2 separate regions of the Homo sapiens genome follow, and region 1 is linked to region 2. Evidence: fine-mapped expression QTL. A gene starts in region 2. The other region holds a variant in brackets. All regions are shown on one strand. Distances are between the middles of the regions.

Region 1 (4,385 bases), 210 kb before region 2:
AGGACTCTGTCTCAAAAAACAAACAAACAAAAAAAGATGGTCGAGGAGGTGAACAATCACTCCTAACTTAGTCTACAAGAAATAGAATAATAATGGCTAACATCTACTGAGCCAGGATTTGCTCTAAGTCTTTCATTTGTATTAATTCACTTAATCCTCATATCAACCCTGAAGTAGGTAATACTCTTTTTTTTTTTTTTTTTTTTTGAGATGGAGTCTTGCTCTGTCGCCCAGGCCGGAGTGCAGTGGTGCAATCTCAGCTCACTGCAACCTCCATCTCCTGGGTTCAAGCGATTCCCCTGCCTCAGCCTCCCAAGCAGCTGGGACTACAGGCGCCTGCCACTATGTCCGGCTAATTTTTTTGTATTTTAGTAGAGACAGGGTTTCACCATGTTGGCCAGATGGTCTCAATCTCCTGACCTCATGATCCGCCCACCTCAGCCTCCCAAAGTGCTGGGATTACAGGCGTGAGCCACCATGCCTGGCCCTGAAGTAGGTAATAGTCTTAGCCCCATTTCAAGGATGAGGAAATTGTGTCTCAGTGAAATTAAATAAATTGTACACGGTCATGAGCTAATAGGTGGCAAAGCCAGTACTGGAACTTAGGCACTCTGACTCCAGAGCCTGTCCTAATAATCATTGTGTTCCATTGTCAGACACAATAAAACTTAGGCCAGGCTGTGCACGGTGGCTCATGACTGTAATCCCAACACTTTGGGAGGTCAAGGCAGCAGGATGGCTTGAGTGCAGGAGTTCAAGACCAGCCTGGGCAGTACAGTGAAACCACGTCTCTACAAAAAGAAGAAAAAGCAAGATGGCTCATGCCTTTAGTCCCAGGTATTTGGGAGGCTGAGGTGGGAGGATCACTTGAGCCCAGGAAGTCAAGGCTGCAGTGAGCTGTGATCATGCCACTGCACTACAGCATGGGTGACAGAGGGAGACCTGTCTCAAAAACAAAACAAACAAAAAACAAAACAAAAAAACCCTTAGAGCTAATATTCATTTCTCTGAGTCTCAGGCAGAGGCAGTTTCTTTTACTGTTGTTGTTGTTGTTATTATTGTTGTTGTTGTTTTTGAGACAGAGTCTCACTCTGTCGTCGGGCTGGAGTGCAGTGGCAGGATCTTGGCTCACTGCCACCTCCACCTCCCGGGTTCAAGCGATTCTCCTGCCTCAGCCTCCTGAGTAGCTGGGAGTACAGGCACGTGCCACCATGCCCGGCTAATTTTTTGCATTTTTAGTAGAGATGGGGTTTCCCCATGTTGGCCAGGCTGGTCTTGAACTCCTGACCTCAGGTGATCCACCCACCTCGGCCTCCCAAAGTGCTGGGATTACAGGTGTGAGCCACCTCACCTGGCCGTTTTTTGTTTTTGTTTTTTAAGTAAAAAAAGTAAAAGGGTAATGAAGGAACAAACCTCAAACCTTCACAGAGGAAAGAAACTACAGCCTGAAAATCAACTATGCAACTGTGGACTAAAGCTATTTAAGCAAAGATCAACAAAAGATGACTCATCAAATTAAAACCCTGTGTGCCATGGAGCTCTATAAGGGCCCTGCTTTCAACCAGAATGACCTGTTTGTCTGTGAAATGGAGAGGAAATAGCTCAAATCTCAGGGGAGACCTCCTCCCATGGACCTGTGTGGGCCTCTATGGTAGATAAATCACCGGATTCTGCGTGAAAAATACTCCAAGACAACACAACCAAATTGAGACACTCAACTACCTATTAATTCAGGTCATACCCCTCTATTCACCAAAGAAGGCACAGAACTAAAGAGAGATTGCAAAACCAATGACAACATCCAACCAGGCAGCTTATATTTAAGAGGACAGTGAAAGAAAGCCAAGATAAACACAGTGGGTTGAGTCAGGAATTCACCTTCAGCTCCAGATAAAAGTACCCTGATAAAAGGGGAGTGATAAGCAGACAGAATCCAACAAAAGATGCAAACCAGATAATACAAAAAGAAAAGAAAAAAGAAAGCTTGACAAACAAGGGACAGATACTCCAAGAATCAATACCATTTCGATATACCATTTTAAAAGAAATAACAAAAACAAAGAGATATAAGTGATCAAAACTGGAGAAGAAAAGAGAGCTGGCAGAATTAAGGAAAGAAATCAAGTAAATATCAACACAGAAAAAAAATCCACATTTGACAGGAGAATGGATGATGCTGATAAAAGTCACATAGATTGCAATAGAAATTATCAGCTAAAAGTAACCAGGTCTGCAGTCTGTAACATGGATAAACCTTGAAGACATTATGCTAAGCAAAATAAGCCAGACACAAAAGGACAAATATTGTATGATTCCTCTTAAATGAGGTACCTGGCATAGGATGGATGGTGGTTGCCAGTTGCTGGAAGGAGGGGGAGTAGGGAGGTATTGTTTAAGGGGTGTGGGGTTTCAGTTTGGGGTGGTGATAAAGTTCTGGGGATGGATAGTGGTGACAGTTTCACAACAATGTAAATGTATGTAATGCCATTGAACTGTACATTTAAAAGGTTAAGGTGGTACATTTCATGTTATGTGCATTTTACAAAAATTAAAAAAAATTTTTTGAGACAAGATCTCTCTCTCTGTCGTCTCAACTTCCTGGGAT[C/T]GAGGGATCCTCTCACCTCAGCCTCCCAAGTGGCTGGGACTGCAGGTGTGCCACCATGCCCAGCTAATTTTTAAAAAAAGTTTCTGCAGAGATAGGGTCTTGCTAGTTGCCCAGGCTGATGTCAAACTCCTGGCCTCAAGCGATCCTCCTACCTCAGCCTCCCAAAGTGCTGGAATTTCAGGGGTGAGACCCCATGCCAAGCTTACAATTTTTAGAAAGAAAAAAGTAATCAGGACTTGGGCTATCTTGGCCAATGTCTTCCTTCAAACTCCCCACAGCCAGAACTGACTTCAGGACTTGACCTGAGGGAGGCACACTAACACCACCTCTTCAACACCCTCCCACCTGCCAAAGCAATTTCTTTAGCAGCTCATCGCATTGGTTAGTCATTGCATTTATTCTGGAGCCCAGAAGGCTAAGAGGCATCAGTACTCAGGCAGTCCAACCCAAGTCCTTTGAAAAGTTCCTGTCTTGGGAGAGAGAAATCGGGAGTGTGTGAGCTCAGGGTGCAGGGCGGTGGGGAGAGGCTGCACCTCTGCTTTCCCACCGTCTTGCTCAGGGCTGGTGCTGCTCCCTGCTGCTGACACCACAGTCCCGTATTTTGCGTGTAGCTTTCATCCCCCAGTCCCAGAGTCCCCTCCTGATTCACAAGTCCAATTTCTCCTGCCATATCTCCGTCGGGCCTGGCTGGCTTTCATCTTAATCTCCAGGGCAGCCCTTCCCTTCTGTGATTGCTTCAGCAATGCTAGCCCCCAGCCAAATCCTAACCCCACTTCCTTTGCTAGTCTTTCTGGCCAATATTTACATACATGTGCTTTTTGGCATTAAGACTACATTTGACTTGTAATAAAATAGTAAAATTTATCCTTCAGACTTTCCAGGGCCTCTGGCTCATATTGCTTAGACGCCCTCATTGTGTTTCCCAAAATATGGTATAATACTGATGACAAGCATGAAGATTGGAGGTGGTATGGGGATGGATGTTCAAGATTTTTTATGTGTTAATTCTAATGCATATTAGGAAAAAAACAGTCCACAAAAAACTGACAATTTTTCATGGATTACATTGTATAGAATAAGGATAAAGTAAATATTTAAGGTTTAAAAGTCATTTTTTGTTTGTTTGTTTTTGTTTTGCGACAGGGTTTCACTCCTGTAGCCCAGGCTAGAATGCAGTGGCACGATCTCGGCTCACTGCAACCTCTGCTTCCCGGGCTCAAGTGATTCTCCAGCCTCAGCCTCCTGAGTAGCTGGGACTATAGGCGTTCACCACCATGCCCAGCTAATTTCTTTATATTTTAGTAGAGACAGGGTTTCACCATGTTGGCCAGGCTGCTCTCAAACTCCTGAACTCAAGTGATCTGCCTACCTTGGCCTCCCAAAGTTCTGGGATTATAGGTGTGAGCCAGTGCACCTAGCCTAAAAGTGAGTGTTTTAAAATAGAACTATTAAATTATAGTACAGGTAGTACACAGCTATGGCAAAAATCAGGAAGGTGAAATAAGAATGAAATTTGCTAACCATTTCCTGACTTTCTCTACCAAAATTTGTCTGACTTGTGTTCCAAACCTTTTGCAAATGTTGAGTGGCTACTTTGAGAAAGTCTTCTATACTGGCTATATGGGTCAAATTGTTGCCCCTTATAGGTAACATCTCTGGTTTTTAACAGAAGCATTTAATGGAGCACAATATAGGGGAAGCAGCACAAAACCACAGCAGTTTTAGCAGCCCGTGACTTTGTCACCAACGGAAATCACAGCTGTTTTCATATCGCATTACA
Region 2 (4,385 bases):
CCTTGGAGAACCTGTGGCCCTGGAATTTGCACTGTTGCCCTGAGATGAACCCAACTCCTCACTGAGTGCCATGTCCTGTGGCTGCCTCGACCTTGCACAGTGGGTTAGGTCTACACAGTGGCATGCCCGTGCCCCTTCCCCAGTCCCTGCACCCCTGGCAAGGGGCCCTAACCTCTGGCAAACCAAAGCAAAGGGTCAACTCCAAGAGATGGTCAACAGCAAAGGGACAGGGTATACAGGAGATGACAGAGGGCAGGGACCCTGGACTCCACACTAGGAGACTCGAGCTGCAGCTGCCACTGTGCCACCATTTAACTCCGTGGCCTTAAAAAACATCTCCAAATCTTCAGCTTCCTTATCTGTATAAAGGATTTCACTGATCTTTACACAGTTCCCATGGGCTGCTGGGAGGAGAGTATAAAATAATATATGTGATGGTGCTTTGTGGCCCCAAAGCCTGAGGAGTGTCGGGGTCTCTCACCTCAGTTAGCCTGGCAGCCATCAGCACTGTCGTGTCTTTGTGGAGTTCAGTCTTGAACTGCCTCTTATCCAGTTCTTAGCTGCGACAACTGATATAGCCCAGGAGCAATTCTCAGTGTTCTAAGCACTCACTGACTGCACCAAGAGAAAGCTAGTGTCCCGCCCCACAGAAATGCCTTCACAGCATTACAGTGTAATGGTGGGGCCCTTATCAAGAGGAAATACAAGAACCAATAAGCCGGGTGTGGTGGCTCATGCCTGTAATCCCAGCACTTTGGGGGACTGAGACGGGCAGATCACTTGAGATTAGAAGTTTGAGACCAGCATGGCCAACATGTCTTTACAAAGAAAAGCCCTGTCTCTACAAAAGAAAAAAAAAATTAGTGGGGCATGGTGGCGTATGCCTATAATCCCAGCTACCCAGGAGGTTGAGGCAGGAGAATCGCTTGAATCCAGGAGGCGGAGGTTGCAGTGAGCCAAGATCATGCCACTGCATTCCAGCCTGGGCAACAGAGCGAGACTCTGTCTCAAAAAGAAAAAGAACCAACAAATCGGCTGGGTGCAGTGGCTCATGCCTGTAATCCCAGTACTTTGAGAGGCCAAAGCAGGAGGACTGCTTGAGCCCAGGAGCTCAAGACCACTCTGATCAGTATAGTGAGAACCCGTCCCTTATACAAAATTTAAAATACAGCTGGGATGGTGACGTGCATGTGTGGTCCCAGCTACTCAGGAGGCTGAGGTGGGAGGATCACTTGAGTCTGGAGGTCAAGGCTGCAGTGAGCATGGTTGCACCACTGCACTCCAGCCTGGACGACAGAATGAGACCCTGTCTCAAAAAAAAAAAAAAAAAAAAAAAAAAAGAACCAACAACTGACTCTTCAGTTTCTAGCAGACAACTGAGAAAGATATTTCCCACTACTAAACGGTGTTCATTGACCTCTGTGAAAAGGACTTCTGGTAAACTCCTCTTGGAATTTAGCACCAGGAAAAAGCTTGCCAGGGCTCATGAACCAGCTCTATCCATACATAACCCATGGCATCTCATGTTTGCCTCCAGTGCCAGCAAGCCCTGAGCTATAGTTGAAGCTCAAATACCATGGTCTTAAATGTTCTCCAACAGTTTAACTGTACATACTTTTTACTGTAAGCTACCTCAAATCTTTCTCAGAAATAGGTGCGAGATATGTGGATAAATAAGTTAGAAGTAAATGTTGATGAGAGGCAAGTGCATAGGCTTGGGGTTTAAAAAGAAACAGCAGAAGCAGGTAGCTGTGTGCCCCTGGATAAGCCCCTTGGTCTCTGAATCTATACTTATCAGTAAAATGGGGATCCTGATGCCTGACACCTGACACCTGATGCCTGAGTTGAAATGGAAATTGGCTAACACGATGCTATTAAATCCTGGGTCTTCTTATTAAAGGCCTCAATTCCTTCCTCTCTTCTGTCATGCTGGGAGCCCCCCCAGGATTCCCGGGTAGAGGGCGCGGGTCCGGCCTTGAAGCCGGGTTCTCAGGGCCTCACTGCGGGGTCTCTGCAGCCTCGGTCGCTGGCACAAATGCTGGACTGCAGCAGCCCCTGGGGTCCCCTAGGGGACCTGGGCGCCCCTACCTTATCTCCGAGTCCTCCTTAGGGTACTTGTCCACCAGGCTGATGACGTCCAGCACCACTAGCCCCACGCACAGGATCTGCTTCTCTTCCATGAGGCTACTCCCAGAGCTTCCTGCCCGCCCGGCTGACGGGGTTCCTCCCGGCCTCTGCCTCTTATCCAGGAGGATGGTGTCCCCGCTCCCAGCTGCCCTGGCTCCTCCTCCGCGTGGGAGCTCCTCCTCCAGGGAGCCACCTGCAGCGGCCAGGGGTGCAGGGAACGAAAGGAGCAGGGCCCTTCCTCGCGACACCCGAAGACCCGAGCGGGTCTAGGAAAGCCAACCCAGAGGTCTTGGTCCCCGGTCTTCCCGTAGCAGGTTGCCTGGGCCTGCAGATGGCAACGCCTCCCACTTCTCAGCCTTAGTTTCCTCGCTTGTCAGATGGACTCACAGCTGATGCAAACCTTTTTAAAGCGCGGCTAAGCGATCTCGAGAATGCAAAGAGAAAATGCGCTACTTGCCCCGCACTCTCCTGCACCTGCGTCTCCGACTCCCGACCCGGGACACGCGAGGTACAGCTGGGCCTCGCATCTGCAGCCCTGCCTGAAGCCCGCGGTCGCGGCGGCCCCGCCCCGCCCCGCCCCGCCCCGCCCCGGTTAGTCCCAGCCGAGGCCACGCCTCCGCCGCGGAGGAGCAGGACCCGCCGGGTGGGCCGCAGCCTCACGTGGCGGGAACGCAGAGCGCCCCCTGGCGGACGCCGGCGAAACGGGCGTGACACGGGGGAGACGTCGCAGGAGCCGGGCGGGCGCCGCTTGCTGCCTGAGCCAACCCCGAGCCGCCCCGAGCCGGGCGGAGGCGGCGAACGCAGTGCGGAACCCGGGGTCCTCTCCGGAGGCCGTCGTCTCTCCCGCCCCGTGCCCTGTGCACGCCCGGCAGCCCCCGACCCCGTACCGTAGCAGAACGGTTCGTTTAGTTTTTTTTAGAAAAACCAAGTGTCTTTATTCCTCGATCGTTTAGTATGGCGGTGGGCGGCGCCCGCGCGGGGGAGCCTGGAGCCCAGGGAATCGACCTGGAGGGCCAGTGGAGGGAGCGGAGGGTGCGAGGATCGGCTCCTCCGCAGGCCGGCCCTGGAGGGGTTCTTGGGGGATCGCGCCAGGCCAAAAGTCTGCATGGGCGGCCCCGAGCCTCCCTGAGCCGGCGCGCCCCGGGCGTGGGGAGAGGCCGCTCTGGGCGCGGTGCCGCTGCGGGCCCGGGTGCGGCGCTCGCCCAGGGCTAGGTGCCCCGTCTCAGGCGAGACCCCAGGAGCCCGCCGCCCCCGCTGTCTCTTCAGCCGACGTAGACACGTCGGGCGGGACCCCAGTCTACGCGTGTTCAAGCTCTGGGTCCCCATAGAGCAGGGCCCCGCTGAAGATGGTGAGCGGCTCCTCCGAGTGCGCCAGCTGCCCCATGACCAGGTCGACGCAGACCGTGTCCCCGGCCTGCAGCGGCAGGATGAGGCTGAAGACGCCCAGGGTGCCCGGGCTGGGCTGGCTCTCGGCCACCGGCTTATTCTCCAGGCCCTCAGGCTCGTAGCCACCGGAGTCTACGCGGGCCACGCCCTGGTTGGAGCGGGACAGCACGGCCTCCACTTTCTCGTGCCGGTGCCCAGTCAGCACCGCGCTCAGCAAGTAGCGTCCAGCCAGTGGCGCTGTGAACACGCCTGGGGACAAGGATAGCAGTCAGGGGGGCCAGGGAAGCTCCGGGGAGCGCACCAGAACTCCTGGACTGAGGAGGGACCCTCTGGGTCTTTTCACCTCACTGGAATGTGAGCGGCAGGGAACTGGGGGCTTTGTTCACTATGCATTCCCAGCACTTAAAACAGTGCCTGGGCAGGAGCAGGCCCCAGTAAAGATCTGCTGAATGAATGAATGACTACTTCTTCTCCCCACTGCCTGAGAATGAATAAATGAAGAAAGAGCCGGGGTCTCCCCAAATCAGAGAATGAAGATTCACACTGTCGGAAAAGGCAAGAATGGGAAGATATCACTGCACACCTCACCCATTTCTCCAACCGTTCAACCCAGCCCCTCCCAGGACTACCTGTCTCTGGATCATAATAGCCTCCATCATTGAGCAGGACTCTGTCGAAGGGGACCGTGCCTGGTTCAGACCGGGGCAAACTCAGAGCAGCTGAAAATGCCACTTGGGGCACAGGGGCTGCTGGTGCCCCCTCCACTCCTGAGTGGGAAGGGTGGATGTTAAAGGGGATGCTCAGGGCAGAGTGCCAGCCCCCTTCCCCTGCTGGATCCCCAGCCCAGGGCTGCCCGAGGACCTCTATCCTCC

What was found. PIP is the estimated chance that this variant, and not a neighbour inherited with it, causes the effect. A credible set is the group of variants that fine-mapping cannot tell apart.
Region 1: its variant is the best candidate, but not a certain one, in a credible set for the expression of KHK in spleen (GTEx, PIP 0.83).

What each region holds. Positions count from the first base shown.
Region 1 is chr2:27,290,712-27,295,096 of GRCh38, reverse strand. The region is part of intron 1 of TRIM54 (tripartite motif containing 54); the gene reads right to left. Among named protein-coding and RNA genes, the nearest start is that of TRIM54, 10 kb to the right of the region's middle. The variant C/T (reference allele first, on the strand shown) is at 2,606.
Region 2 is chr2:27,085,055-27,089,439 of GRCh38, reverse strand. KHK (ketohexokinase) reads right to left here and starts at 2,668. Exons shown (of 8, transcript NM_006488.3): 1 at 2,089-2,668. The coding sequence starts at 2,180. EMILIN1 (elastin microfibril interfacer 1) reads right to left here. Exons shown (of 8, transcript NM_007046.4): 7 at 4,143-4,280; 8 at 3,037-3,762. The coding sequence ends at 3,425. RefSeq lists enhancers at 2,415-2,474, 3,465-3,684 and silencers at 2,665-3,124, 3,175-3,334.